Homo sapiens: one gene and its partner. Each later gene encodes a partner of the first gene's protein in a complex. Each region holds a gene or a part of one and is shown in the gene's direction. Other genes may lie near its edges. The genes, in order: PNPT1 and SUPV3L1.

Region 1 (7,359 bases):
AGATGCATCAAATATGCATTTTAACCCCTTGTTTACCTGTTAAAGTTAACATCGGGTCCAAGTGAAATACCACCATCATGGAACTTCTGTGATACAAAAATACAAAAAAGTAATTGCTACTATTTCATTATTAAAATATTTAGTCATTTAGTCATCCAAATCTTTTTTTTTTTTTTTGGAGACCAGGTCTCTCTCTGTTGCCGAGGCTGGAGTACAGTGGCATGATCTTGGCTCAGTGCAACTTCCGCCTCCCAGGTTCAAGTGATTCTCTTGACTCAGCCTCCTGAGTAGCTGGGATTACAGGCGTGCACCACCACACCTGGCTAATTTTTGTGTTTTTAGTAGAGACAGGGTTTCACCATGTTTGTCAGGCTGGTCTCAAACTCCTGACCTCAGGTGATCCACCTGCCTCAGCCTCCCGAAGTGCCGGGATTGCAGGCATGGGCCACCACTCCCGGGCAGTCATCCAGATCTTTAGAGTATAATCTTACACGGCAAGAATAGTTACTCCATGCTGTCAGCTGCTGGGTTACTTCAACACCAACATTCTGAACCGTACCATTTAGATGTTTGTTTTCAACTGGTATATTTAATATCACTAATATTTCTGTGTGTGAGAAGATATCGGTCAGGAAAAAGTATACCAGTAACATGTTTTTAGAAGATATTTTGGGTCTAGAATTTATAGCTTCAGCTAATCTCAAAACTCCTTCATCTTCAACTGCTAAAATGGTTGACAGTTTATAGCAATCTTCTTTTTTTTTTTTTTTTTTTTTTGGTTGAGATGGAGTCTTACTCTGTCGCCCAGGCTGGAGTGCAGTGGCGCAATCTCGGCTCACTGCAACCTCCATCTCCAGGTTCAAGCGATTCTCTTGACTCGGCCTCCCAAGTAGCTGGGACTACAGGCGTGCACCACCACACCTGGCTAATTTTTTATTTTTAGTAGAGATGGGGTTTCAACATGTTGGCCAGGCTGGTCTCAAACTCCTGAACTCAGGTGATCCACCTGCCTCAGCTTCCCAAAGTGCTGGGATTACAAGCGTGAGCCACCACGCTGGGCCTATAGCAATCATTTTGACAAGCTTTTATGTTTAAATTTTTAGCATCGATAGCAGTGTTGTCCAGTAGAACTCTGCAGTGAAGGGAATGTTTTATATCTGATCATGTGGCTACTTAGCACTTCAGATGTGGCTAGAGTAACTGAGGAACCAAAATTTTAATTTTGTCTAATTTTAAATAATTTAAATGCAAGTAGCCATATGTGGCTAGTAGTTACCATATTGGACAGCACAGCTCTGTAGACTCAACTGTAAGGAGTGTTCTTTCTTTCTTTCTTTCTTTTTTTAAGACAGTCTCACTCTGTTGCCAAGCTGGAATGCAATGGTGTGATTATACATCACTACAGCCTCAAACTGTGGGGTTCAAACGATCCTATGTCCTCAGCCTCCTGAGTAGCTGGGAATCCAGGCACATGTCACCACACCTGGCTAAAGAAATTTTCTTAGAAAGTATTTTTTAAAAGGAATTGCATTAAAGTTTAATGAGTGAAAACAAAGTTTATTTGGGGGGTATCCATTTTTCTTTGTCATATTCTATTTTTTAAATTTTACCATTATTTTTATTAGATATAGCATCTCATTATATTGCCCAGGCTAATCTCCTGGCCTCAAGCAATCCTCCTGTCCTGGCCTCCCATAGCACTGGAATTACAAGCATGAGCCCCATGCCCAGCCATATTTTTTTTTTTTTTGAATCTGGTTCTCAACTCTCCTCAACTCTATTGTCCAGACTAGAGTATGAGTATAGTGGCGTGATCATGGCTCACTGTAGCCTAGCCTGAAACTGCTGGCCTCAAGTGATCATCCTGCCTCAGCCTCTAGAATAGCTAGGATTACAGGCACACCACCGCAGCTGAGTTTTTTATCTTCTAGTTGTTATCTTTTTAGGGACAGGACCTTGCTGTGTTGCTCAGCCTGGTCCCAGACTCCTGGCCTCAAATAATCCTCCCACCTTGGCCTCCCAAAGTACTGGGACAATAGGCATGAGCCATCACACCTGGCCACATATTTTATTTTTAAAAGCAATTTATTGAGATATAATTTATACCCATTAAATGAATTTTTAAAAATCTCCGGATTAATCCTGTCAAAGTGAGAGGATATCTTGGAAATACAGATGAGAAAAAGAATATAGCCATCTCAGTATCATGGTATCAGAAGAAATTTCTTCAGGCCTGGTGCAAAATATGGAAACCTTATTTCCCTTTACCCTCTCCCATTTGGAATGCAATTGTTATCATTTTCTTCTACAGTTAGAACCATATCAGGCAGTGTTACAATTTTTGCTTTTGCTTCAACTGTCAAACATAATTTAGAAAACTCAAGAGGGAAAGAAAAGCTTATTGCTCTGTATTTACTCTTTTTCTCTATTTATTTATTTATTTTTTTGAGATGGAGCCTCATTCTGTCGCCCAGGCTAGAGTGCAGTGGCGTGATCTCAGCTCACTGCAACCTCCACCTCCTGGGTTCAAGTGATTCTCATGCCTCAGCCTCCTGAGTAGCTGGGACTACAGGTGCACGCCACTATGCCTGGCTAATTCTTTCATTTTTTATAGAGACAGGACCTCGCTATGTTGCCCAGGCTGGTCTTGAACTCTGACTTCAGGTGATCTGCCCACTTTAGCCTCCCAAAGTGCTGGGATTACAGGTGTGAGCCACCACGCTCAGCCTCTATATTTATTCTTAGTTTGCATACTGATTTTCTTTCCTTTCTAACAGTCCACGATGTCTTCTCTTATTTTTTCATTTCTGTTTAGAAAACTTCCTTTAGCTATTTCTAATGCAATAGAAAAAATTCTATTATTCAGTCCTTTAGTTGGCTTACTTGAAACAGGATCACTGCAGAGATTTCCCCATCTGTGCAAGAATTAGACAATGTGAGAATTAATTGTTAAACAGGAAATATTTATTAGATTCCTATTGTGTTACATATTTTTACATTTTATTTAAAATATGTATTGCCAGGAGCGGTGGCTCACGCCTGTAATCCCAGCACTTTAGGAGGCTGAGGCGGGTTAATCACCTGAGGTCAGGAGTTCGAGAGCAGCCTGGGCAACATGGCAAAACCCCGTCCCTACTAAAACTACAAAAATTAGCTGGATGTAGTGGCTCACGCCTGTAATCCCCAGCACTTTGGAAGGCCAAGGCAGGCAGATCACCTAAAGTCACTTTGGCAAATAATATAAACAGTTCACAGAAAAGGACATACATATGGCCTTTTAAAAATATAAAAAGATGCCAGGCACAGTGGCTCACGTCTAATCCCAGCACTTTGGGAGGCTGAGGCAGGCAGATCACAAGGTCAGGAGATTGAGACCATCCTGGCTAACACAGTGAAACCCCATGTCTACTAAAAATACAAAAAATTAGCTGGGCATGGTGGCGGGCGCCTGTAGTCCCAGCTACTCGGGAGGCTGAGGCAGGACAATGGTGTGAACCTGGGAGGCAGAGCTGGCAGTGAGCCGAGATTGCGCCACTGCACTCCAGCGTGGTCAACAGAGTGAGACTCTGTCTCAAAAAAAAAAAAAAAGTATTAAAAACAAATGCACTTGTATACTTTAAAAGATTTAATTTTTATTTTATGTGACTTATAGCTCAATAAAACTTATTTTTAAAATATGTGCATGATTTCTTTTTTTTTTCTGTTTCATTTTTTATGGGAAATCCCTCCTTAAACTTAAGGAGAATGTAAACCTAAATACAGATATCAAGGTGTCTTTATTCATTTACCGCTGCTTACATTTTGGAAGTATGTTGATTCTGAGGAAAGAAATCAAGGTGGATCTATCACTAAGAAGTAAAATTGATCCATAATATTTATGTCATGTCATGGTATTTGAAAATGTTATATTACTAAGAGCTTCGATGGCAGTCATTTTTTTTTTCTTTTTCCTTTAAATAGTCATGTTGGAAGCCTCTGCAGAGAACATTTTACAGCAGGACTTTTGCCATGCTATCAAAGTGGGAGTGAAATATACCCAACAAATAATTCAGGGCATTCAGCAGTTGGTAAAAGAAACTGGTGTTACCAAGAGGACACCTCAGAAGTTATTTACCCCTTCGCCAGAGATTGTGAAATATACTCATAAGTAAGAACATCTGTGCAAATGAAAATATGAAATTGTCATCAGATTTAATTTCCTCGTGGGAGAGAAACTTCCCATGGAAGCACTGCCCATGCATTACTTCATAAATAGCACTTTTCTGTTTTAAGAGTCATTCCCATAAATATCTGCTTACTCCCTTAAAAAGGATAAGCCCACATCACTCTTGTAAGACCTAACTTTGAATCTCAAATGAAAGAGTGTGTTTATTGGTCAAGATTCAGGTAAGCACCACATCTCTCCACGTCTAGGAAAAAGAATAAAACGTTAAGATATTTGAATATCTAAGGAAACTGTTGGAATTCTCAAAAAGAAATCAGAGGTAATCACTGTTACATGCCCAGTGCTTAGAACGTTAGGCAGACACTCAGTAAATGTAAATGAATCACTGGAAAATTATTTTATTTGAAAAAATTGAAAAGGTTAATACTTTCCCTTAATGTCAGTTGCACAGCCATGAGTTGGAAATTAAATTAACTCTTTCTAGCAAAAGAGTTTCATGTGATAATGGAGCCAAAATGGGTAGAATGAAGAAAGGAAGAGGTTAAAAAGAATATATGAAAGGTGAAATTAATTGAACAATTAAGAAGAAAAGAACAGGATACTACATGTGGTTTCCCCTGGGAGGGTGGGAGAAAGAAATTTGTGTTCTATACCATAAATAGTAAACAGATTAGCAATGATAAATAGCAATATAAATTTTCAATTCTTTCTGAAGTATTTATTAAAGTTTTAGCTGATTATTATTAAATATTTCAGTTTTGTTTATAATAGAAACTGCCTCTTGTTTCCAGATATTATTATGCTAACATTTATTTTCTGCTTAAATAGACTTGCTATGGAGAGACTCTATGCAGTTTTTACAGATTACGAGCATGACAAAGTAGGTATACCTGAGTTTTGTCTTCCATAATTGCCCTAGGAATACATTTTTGTCATAACTCATGTAATTTTCTTTATGAATGCTAGTCCTATTTTTATTAAAAATCTCTAAATGAAAAACTAACAAAAGCCTAATTGTTTCTCCATTCTTTTGTTTTGTTTTGTTTTTGAGACAGAGTCTCTCTCTGTCGCCCAGGCTGGTGTGCAGTGGCATGATCTCAGCTCACTGCAACTTTCGCCTTCCAGCGATTCTCATGCCTCAGCCTCCCAAGTAGCTGGGATTACAGGTGCACGCCACCACACTCAGCTATCTTTTGTATTTTTAGTAGAGACGGCCATGTTGGCCAGGCTGGTCTCAAACTCCTGGCCTCAAGTGATCTGCCCACCTTGGCCACCCAAAGTTCTTTTCTTTTTAATATAAGTTTTAGGGGAGTGTACAAATGTATTTGAATGAATTAACATGTAGTATTTGTCATAAATCAAGAACCAATTCCAATATTTTAAAGAATATTAAAGAAATCAGAGTAATTCACAATGTGTTCATTGTATAATAATTAGAAAACAGAAATATTAAATGTTGTCATGTATATGTAATAACTGAACCTCAACTTTCTTTTAGGTTTCCAGAGATGAAGCTGTTAACAAAATAAGATTAGATACGGAGGAACAACTAAAAGGTAAATTTTATTTTATTTTATTTTATTTTTTTGCTGAGGGCAGCTTTAATAAGGCATGGCCTGACTCTTGCTTCTTGGGATTAAAGGTCAAAGAGGAAAGGCATCACATCTGTAGGAAAAGAAGAATTCAAAGGACTTTCAACTTTACAGCTGCTGTTCCCTAGACCTAGAATGCTCTCTCATAGCAGGTGGTCTTCTTCTAACCCAAGGTTCAAATGCCACCTCTTCTCCAAAGCTTCCCCGAACTGTTTCGGGGAAAGAGAAAGTCCCCTTTGCACAGAACCGCTATTACTATGTATTTTTTAATTTTAAAAGCATTAAAAGAAATAATAGACTTTTTTTTTTTTTAACTTTAGTTGAAGATCTCAAATAAATGTTACTCTCATTGCTTCTCAGCTTTATTTTCAATAAACTTGTAATAATGATAGCTCACAAGGTTACTGCTAAATTAACTTCTATGAATGTAGCTAGCACTACATTTGATGCAGAGTAGGTACCTAGTAAATGTTGAATGTGAATGTTCCTGATCTTTTCTGAATCAAACTCCTACCATACAAGAAATGTAACCTGGTATCTTATCATTTGAAAACCCAAATATATTCTTTAAAATTCTTGAGTTCTTGATCTGTGAAATTGCAGTGTTAATAATACCTGGTTTATGGGGATTAAATGAGTGAATCATTTACATCTGTGCCTGCCACACCGTAAGTGTTCAATAAATGTTAACTGATGCTATTCTTAATACCTAGTGGAATCATAAGATACAGAACTTAGGTAATTTAGCTCTCCAGAAATTATTAAGCAAAGGATCTTACTGTATAATATCAACCTCTGGCCAGGCGCGGTGGCTCACGCCTGTAATCCCAGCACTTTGGGCGGCCGAGGCAGACAGATCACGAGGTCAAGAGATCGAGACCATCCTGGCTAATACGGTGAAACCCTGTCTCTACTAAAAATACAAAAAGTTAGCCGGGCGTGGTGGCGGGCACCTGTGGTCCCAGCTACCCAGGAGGCTGAGGCAGGAGAATGGCGTGAACCCAGGAGGTGGAGCTTGCAGCGAGTCGAGATCGCGCCACTGCACTCCAGCTTGGGCAACGGAGCGAGACTCTGTCTCAAAAAAATAAATAAATAAATAAAAATAATAGTAATAATACCAACCTCACACAAACTGAATATAAATGAAGTATGACATAGTTTTTGTTAATTTTTCTAATAGACAAATATACTCTCACATGAATATTTATTTTAAGATAAAAAACTGGCCAGGCGTGGTGGCTCATGCCTGTAATCCCAGCACTTTGGGAAGCCAAAGTGGGTGGATCACTTGAGATCAGGAGTTCAAGACCAGCCTGGCCAATATGGTGAAACCCCATCTCTACCAAAAATACAAAAATTAGGCGGGCATGGTGGCAGGCTCCTGTAATCCCAGCTACTTGGGAGGCTGAGGCATGAGAATCACTTGAACCTGTTAGGCAGAGGTTGTAGTGAGCTGAGACCGCCACTGCACTCCAGCCTGGGCAATAGAGCAAGACTCCATCTCAAAAAAAAAAAAAAAAGTGCTGTTAGCATTGATATTAAGGCCATTAATTGTAACTGTCATTGAATATGTTTAGTCCTTTCTCACTACATTTCATCCTA
Region 2 (5,572 bases), on another chromosome or scaffold:
ATAACATGTTCTCTCACCTCCCGCCCTATTTCCTCTGCTTTGCATGCTCTCCCCACCCCACTAAACCCAAAGGCCTCCTCTTCTCTGAATCTTGTCCTGACTCACTGAGGTTCACTGCCATTTCCTCTGTAGGCCTGAGCATTCTACATATGAGCTATATTCTAATCAAATCTAGCTCTAAACTTATTTTTTAAATAACATAAATAGTCCAGTGCTGTGGCTCATGCCTGTAATCCCAGCACTTTGGGAGGCAGGAAGGATTGCTTAAGCCTAGGAGTTCGAGAACATCTCCAGCAACATAGCAAGACTCTGCCCTTTAAAAAAAAAATTACATAAATAATACATACATTCTCTTTATACAAAATGAGAACATTACAGATAGCTTAAATGTGGCTCCCTCCCCAATCTTAGTCCTCTGAAATAACTACTTGTGTAAGTTTGTGTGTATCTTTGCAGACTGTTTTTCATTGCGTTTGCCTATGTGCATGTTCATGTGGAAACACTAGATTTGTTGTGAGGGTGCATTTCCCCATAAAAAATTATCTTTTTTTTTTTTTTGAGACAGAGTCTCACTCTGTCGCTGAGGCTGGAGTACAGTTGTGTCATCTCAGCTCACTGCAACCTCTGCCTCCTGGGTTCAAGCGATTCTCGTGCCTCAGCCTCCTGAGTATCTGGGATTACAGGCATGTGCCATGCCTGGCTAATTTTTGTATATTTTGTAGAGGCAGGGTTTCGCCATGTTCCCCAGGCTGGTCACGAACTCCTGAGCTCAAGCAGTCCACCTGCCTCAGCCTCCCAAAGTGCTAGGATTACAGGCATGAGCCATTGTGCCCAGCCCTATCAACGTTATCTTAATGAATTACTCACAACTTGCCTTTTCTTTTTCTCTTAATAATATGTGTTAGAGATCTTCCATGTCCAGATGTTTACCTAGAAAATATGTTTCTTAGAGCTGGCATTTGTGAAAAACTTAGCTAGCATAAGGTTGAAGTTTATGGAACAGTCTTGAACTGCTGTAAACTGACCTGAGTGGAACTCAGTCCCATGGCCTTGGCACCATTCACACCATCCTTTAAACAGCTATTCTAGTGAATAGAAGCTCTTTACTAAGGTGTAGGGAGTCTCTGGAACATGCAGGTCAACAGTTGCTTGTTTTCTTAAGATAAGGTCTCACTATGTTGCCCAGGCTGCAGTGCAGTGGCACAATCATAGCTCACTGTAACCCCAAACTCCTGGGCTCAGGCGATCCTTCCACCTCAGCCTCCTGAGTAGCTAGGACTACAGGTGTGCGCCATGATGCGTGGTGTGTTTTCTTTTTGAGATGAAGTCTCACTCTGTTGCCCAAGCTGGAGTGCAGTGGTATGAGCTTGGCTCACTGCAACCTCCGCCTCCCAGGTTCAGGCGATTCTCCTGTCTCAGCCTCCCGAGTAGCTGGGATTACAGGTGCCCGCCACCATGCCTGGCTAATTTTTTGTATTTTTAGTAGAGATGGGGTTTCACCATGTTGGCCAGGCTGGTCTCAAACTCCTGACCTCAAGTGATCCACCCGCCTTGGCCTCCCAAAGTGCAGGGATTACAGGCATGAGCCACCACACCCGGCCGCTCCGTGTGTTTTCTGTTTAAAAATTAGAATATGAAATCTAGAGGCTTTTCCTTTTTTCCTGATCTTTGTCATTACTGAACTATGAAAGAGCTCAATCACATTAATGACTTAGGATGCCCCTTAGGACTGTGATTTGGAAGCTGTGCTCCATGGAGCTCCTTTAGGGCCAGCTGCTGGATGGATGGATGGATGGATGGATGGATGGGCGGGCATCTCTCCCTGCTCTCTCTGCATAGCTCCTTACTTAGCTCTTTTATGTATTGGGCTTCCACTAGTTGTTTGTGGCCAAAAAAAATAGAGCCACTGCCTTTATAAGATAACTTGAGAACTCATGCTTGGCCTGTCCTGCCTAGCAGGTAGTGTGGTCACATTTCTACCCTTTATGGCTATCCTACTTGGCATTTATTAAACTTAGCAGAGTGGACCAGACTGAATTTAACAAAATTGTGGCATTATTTAACTACAATTGATCTAAAACTGCTCTTCCTCTCTGAAGTATTAACCTTGCTTAGGTTAAGCATTTAGAGATAATTTCCCCTAATCAGGAAATGAATCATTTGAAATCAGCTTGAATCTTGAAGCTGAAGATTTTATTTAAACTCTTGCTTGAGGGGTCTTACTGTGTGGTTGTATGTCTATCTTCTGTAGTACAGGTGATGTATAATATTGCCTAATTCTGGGATGCAACATGGTTTTGAAAGCACATTCCCCAGCAGTGTCTTGTGGTTCAAGACAGGGCTGTGATGTCTCACGTTACCAGTGAGGAAGCTGAAGCAAAGAGTGTTGACTTGGCCAAAGCCACACAGCTCGCAGGAGGCAGATCCAAGATTGACTTCTGACCAGCCTTGCACCAGGCCACCTCAGAGGGTTTCTATATAATAAGGGAGGACAGCCAGGTGCGGTGGCTCACGCCTGTAATCCCAGCACTTTGGGAGGCCGAGGCGGGTGGATCACAAGGTCGGGAGTTTGAGACCAGCCTGACCAACATGATGAAACCCCGTCTGCACTAAAAATACAAAAATTAGCTGGGTGTTGTGGCGGGCGCCTGTAATCCCAGCTACTCAGGAGGTTGAGGCAGGAGAATCACTTGAACCCAGGAGGCGGAGGTTGCAGTGAGCCAAGATCGTGCCATTGCACTCCAGCCTGGGTAACAGAGCGAGACTCCGTCTCAAAAAAATAAAAAATAAGGGAGGACATTAACAAGATAGAGAAACTTAAGCTCGTATTTGAGGTTATAGGACTATTACATATGAGATAGAAATAGGAGTCTTCAGGTACTGTCTGTCCATAGCTTTAGAACATCACATATTCCTAAATAAGAGTTAACAGACTTAGGCCCTGGAAAGTTAGTCCTTCTACAGCTTCTTTTTTTTTTTAACTGCTCCTTGTGGAGCAGGGATACCCTATAGGTAGTGTGCCCAGAGTAGCCCTTGAACTTCTGCTGCACATATTATTACCCTGGTTTTAGAAAAAGAAGGAAATCATCTTTTTTTGTTTTTTCTTTCTCCAAATGGTCTCACTGCTGGAGTGCAGTGGCACGATCATGGCGCACTGCAGCCTTGACCTCCCTGGGCTCAGTAATCCTCCACCTCAGCTTCCTGAGGAGTAGATGGAATCACAGGCACACACCACCATGCCCAGCTAATTCTTTGTGTTTTTTGTATGGATGGGGTTTCTCCATGTTGCCCCAGCTGGTCTCGAACTCCTGGGCTCAAGTGATCTACCCGCTTCAGACTCCCAGAGTGCTGGGATTATAGACGTGAGCCACTGTACCTGGCCTTATAAAGTATTAAATGTTCTTTAAAATGTAGAAGAGTATAAAGGAGAAAAGAAACCACCTGTCTATTGAAATACAACCACAATGTTTTGTTTTGCTTTCTTTTTTTTCTCTTTCTAATTATAGACTTAAGGGAATTCTGACACTTCTCTGAAACCCTTTTCCTCTTTCTCTCTCAGTTTGCCAGGCAGTATAGCAGGAATGAGCCCCTGACCTTTGCATGGTTACGCCGATACATCAAATGGCCTTTACTTCCACCTAAGAATATTAAAGACCTCATGGATCTTGAAGCTGTCCACGATGTCTTGGATCTTTACTTGTGGCTAAGGTACCAACATTTTTCCTTTATGTGCTCTCATTTTTCTAGTAGGACAAATTAAAGGTTTTATGAATTTGTTTTTCTATTTCAAATTATGGACATATTTGCAAGATGCTCTATATTATGTCTATTGTCCATAAAGGCAATTCAACTGATGGAATGGTTTCCCATTCCAAAAATGACTTGAGTTCTTGCAATTCTAGTTAAGATGGCTAGGTGAGAAGGAAGGTCCACTGGACTCCTGCTGGTCAAAGGATGGTCCTTGGACCAAAAGCATTGGTATCACCTGGGAGCTTGTTAGAACTAAGGAGTATCAGGCCCATGCCTGACTTGATCAGATTCTGCATTTTAACAAGATCCCTGGGTGATTCACTTGTACATTATCATTTGAGAAGTCCTGTTCTAGGCCAGTGATTCTCAAAGGAGGGGCATGTCCCTCTCCAGGAGTATATCAGAGTCTATTGAGGTATAGTGCTGACCCACCCTCAGGATGACATATTCCTCCGATATGTGGGGGCAGAAATCAAGGTTGAGCAAAGGCACTGAAGAGAGTTTGCAAAAAGAACATTTAGAATTTATCAATGTCATGATGTAGGTGTGCCATTGAGAGTTGTCCAGTGACTGCGATAAGAGCTGTTGCTATAATGCTAATGTGTCTTTTTCCCAGCTACCGATTTATGGATATGTTTCCAGATGCCAGCCTTATTCGAGATCTCCAGAAAGAACTAGATGGTATTATCCAAGATGGTGTGCACAATATCACTAAATTGATTAAAATGTCTGAGACGCATAAGCTGTTGAATTTGGAGGGCTTTCCATCAGGGAGCCAGTCACGATTGTCAGGAACCTTAAAGAGCCAAGCTAGAAGGACACGCGGCACCAAAGCTCTAGGGAGTAAAGCTACTGAGCCACCCAGCCCCGATGCAGGAGAGCTGTCCCTTGCTTCCAGATTGGTGCAGCAAGGACTCCTCACTCCAGACATGCTGAAACAGCTAGAAAAAGAGTGGATGACACAACAAACTGAACACAACAAAGAAAAAACAGAGTCTGGGACTCATCCAAAAGGGACGAGAAGAAAGAAGAAGGAACCTGATTCGGACTAGTTTTCTGTTCCTGTTTTTTTTTTTTTATTTAATTTTGCAAATAAAAATTTATTTTGAATCCTTTTTCCTCATATGCATTTACTCCCTCCTCTAGTATTGTGGCTATCTGGTACTGGGGGATTTTTGGTGTGTGTGTGTGTTTGTGTGTGTGTTTGTTTGTTTTTTCTTTTTTTGCACAGAAAAATCTCTCTTGATGACTAAACTTGTTTTTTTTTTTTTCAACATTTAGAAAATACTAGGATATCATGGAGGTTTAATTTAAGTCTTTATATAATGGCCATTTGTAGAATAGTACTAAGACAGTGCACTATAAGGAACTCTGCATGGGAATAAAATCACTTTGGTGAATTGTTTGACCAGTTTCCTATGCCATGCTGAGGATGTCATGGATGCAGTTCTTTGACAAACATTGCTGTCTGTTGTACCCATATACCAGAGGCTATTTAGGTGCTGGAAATATGCAGTAAGCAAGACTGACAATCTTCTACCCTCATGGATCTCATATTTGGTAGGAGAGACAGGAACAGGTTAACAAATAAATCCTGTCAGATCGGTGAGGGCAGAGATTGTAGTCTATTTCACTACTGCATCCACAGTATCTGGAATATAGCAGAAGCAAAATCATTCTTTGTGAGATGAATGGGTGTAATTTTAGAGATGAATGCTAGAAAGAATAAGGAAAGAGTGATGCTGAGTGGCAGGGAAGGGCTGTTTTAGGTAGGGTGGTCTTCCCTTGTCCAAAGGCCAGCCTACACTTGTTCAACGAAGTT

What was found.
Region 2: PNPT1 (region 1) and SUPV3L1 share a complex: the UniProt entries of both Homo sapiens proteins name them as parts of the mitochondrial degradosome (mtEXO) complex.

What each region holds. Positions count from the first base shown.
Region 1 is NC_000002.12:55,669,681-55,677,039, reverse strand, and holds part of PNPT1 (polyribonucleotide nucleotidyltransferase 1, mitochondrial precursor), read left to right. Parts: intron 1-3,960; coding exon 3,961-4,147; intron 4,148-4,993; coding exon 4,994-5,045; intron 5,046-5,663; coding exon 5,664-5,721; intron 5,722-7,359. UniProt on the Homo sapiens protein: RNA-binding protein implicated in numerous RNA metabolic processes. Catalyzes the phosphorolysis of single-stranded polyribonucleotides processively in the 3'-to-5' direction. Mitochondrial intermembrane factor with RNA-processing exoribonulease activity.
Region 2 is NC_000010.11:69,204,234-69,209,805, forward strand, and holds the end of SUPV3L1 (ATP-dependent RNA helicase SUPV3L1, mitochondrial), read left to right. Parts: intron 1-3,559; coding exon 3,560-3,708; intron 3,709-4,366; coding exon 4,367-4,802; 3' UTR 4,803-4,860; downstream 4,861-5,572. UniProt on the Homo sapiens protein: Major helicase player in mitochondrial RNA metabolism. Component of the mitochondrial degradosome (mtEXO) complex, that degrades 3' overhang double-stranded RNA with a 3'-to-5' directionality in an ATP-dependent manner.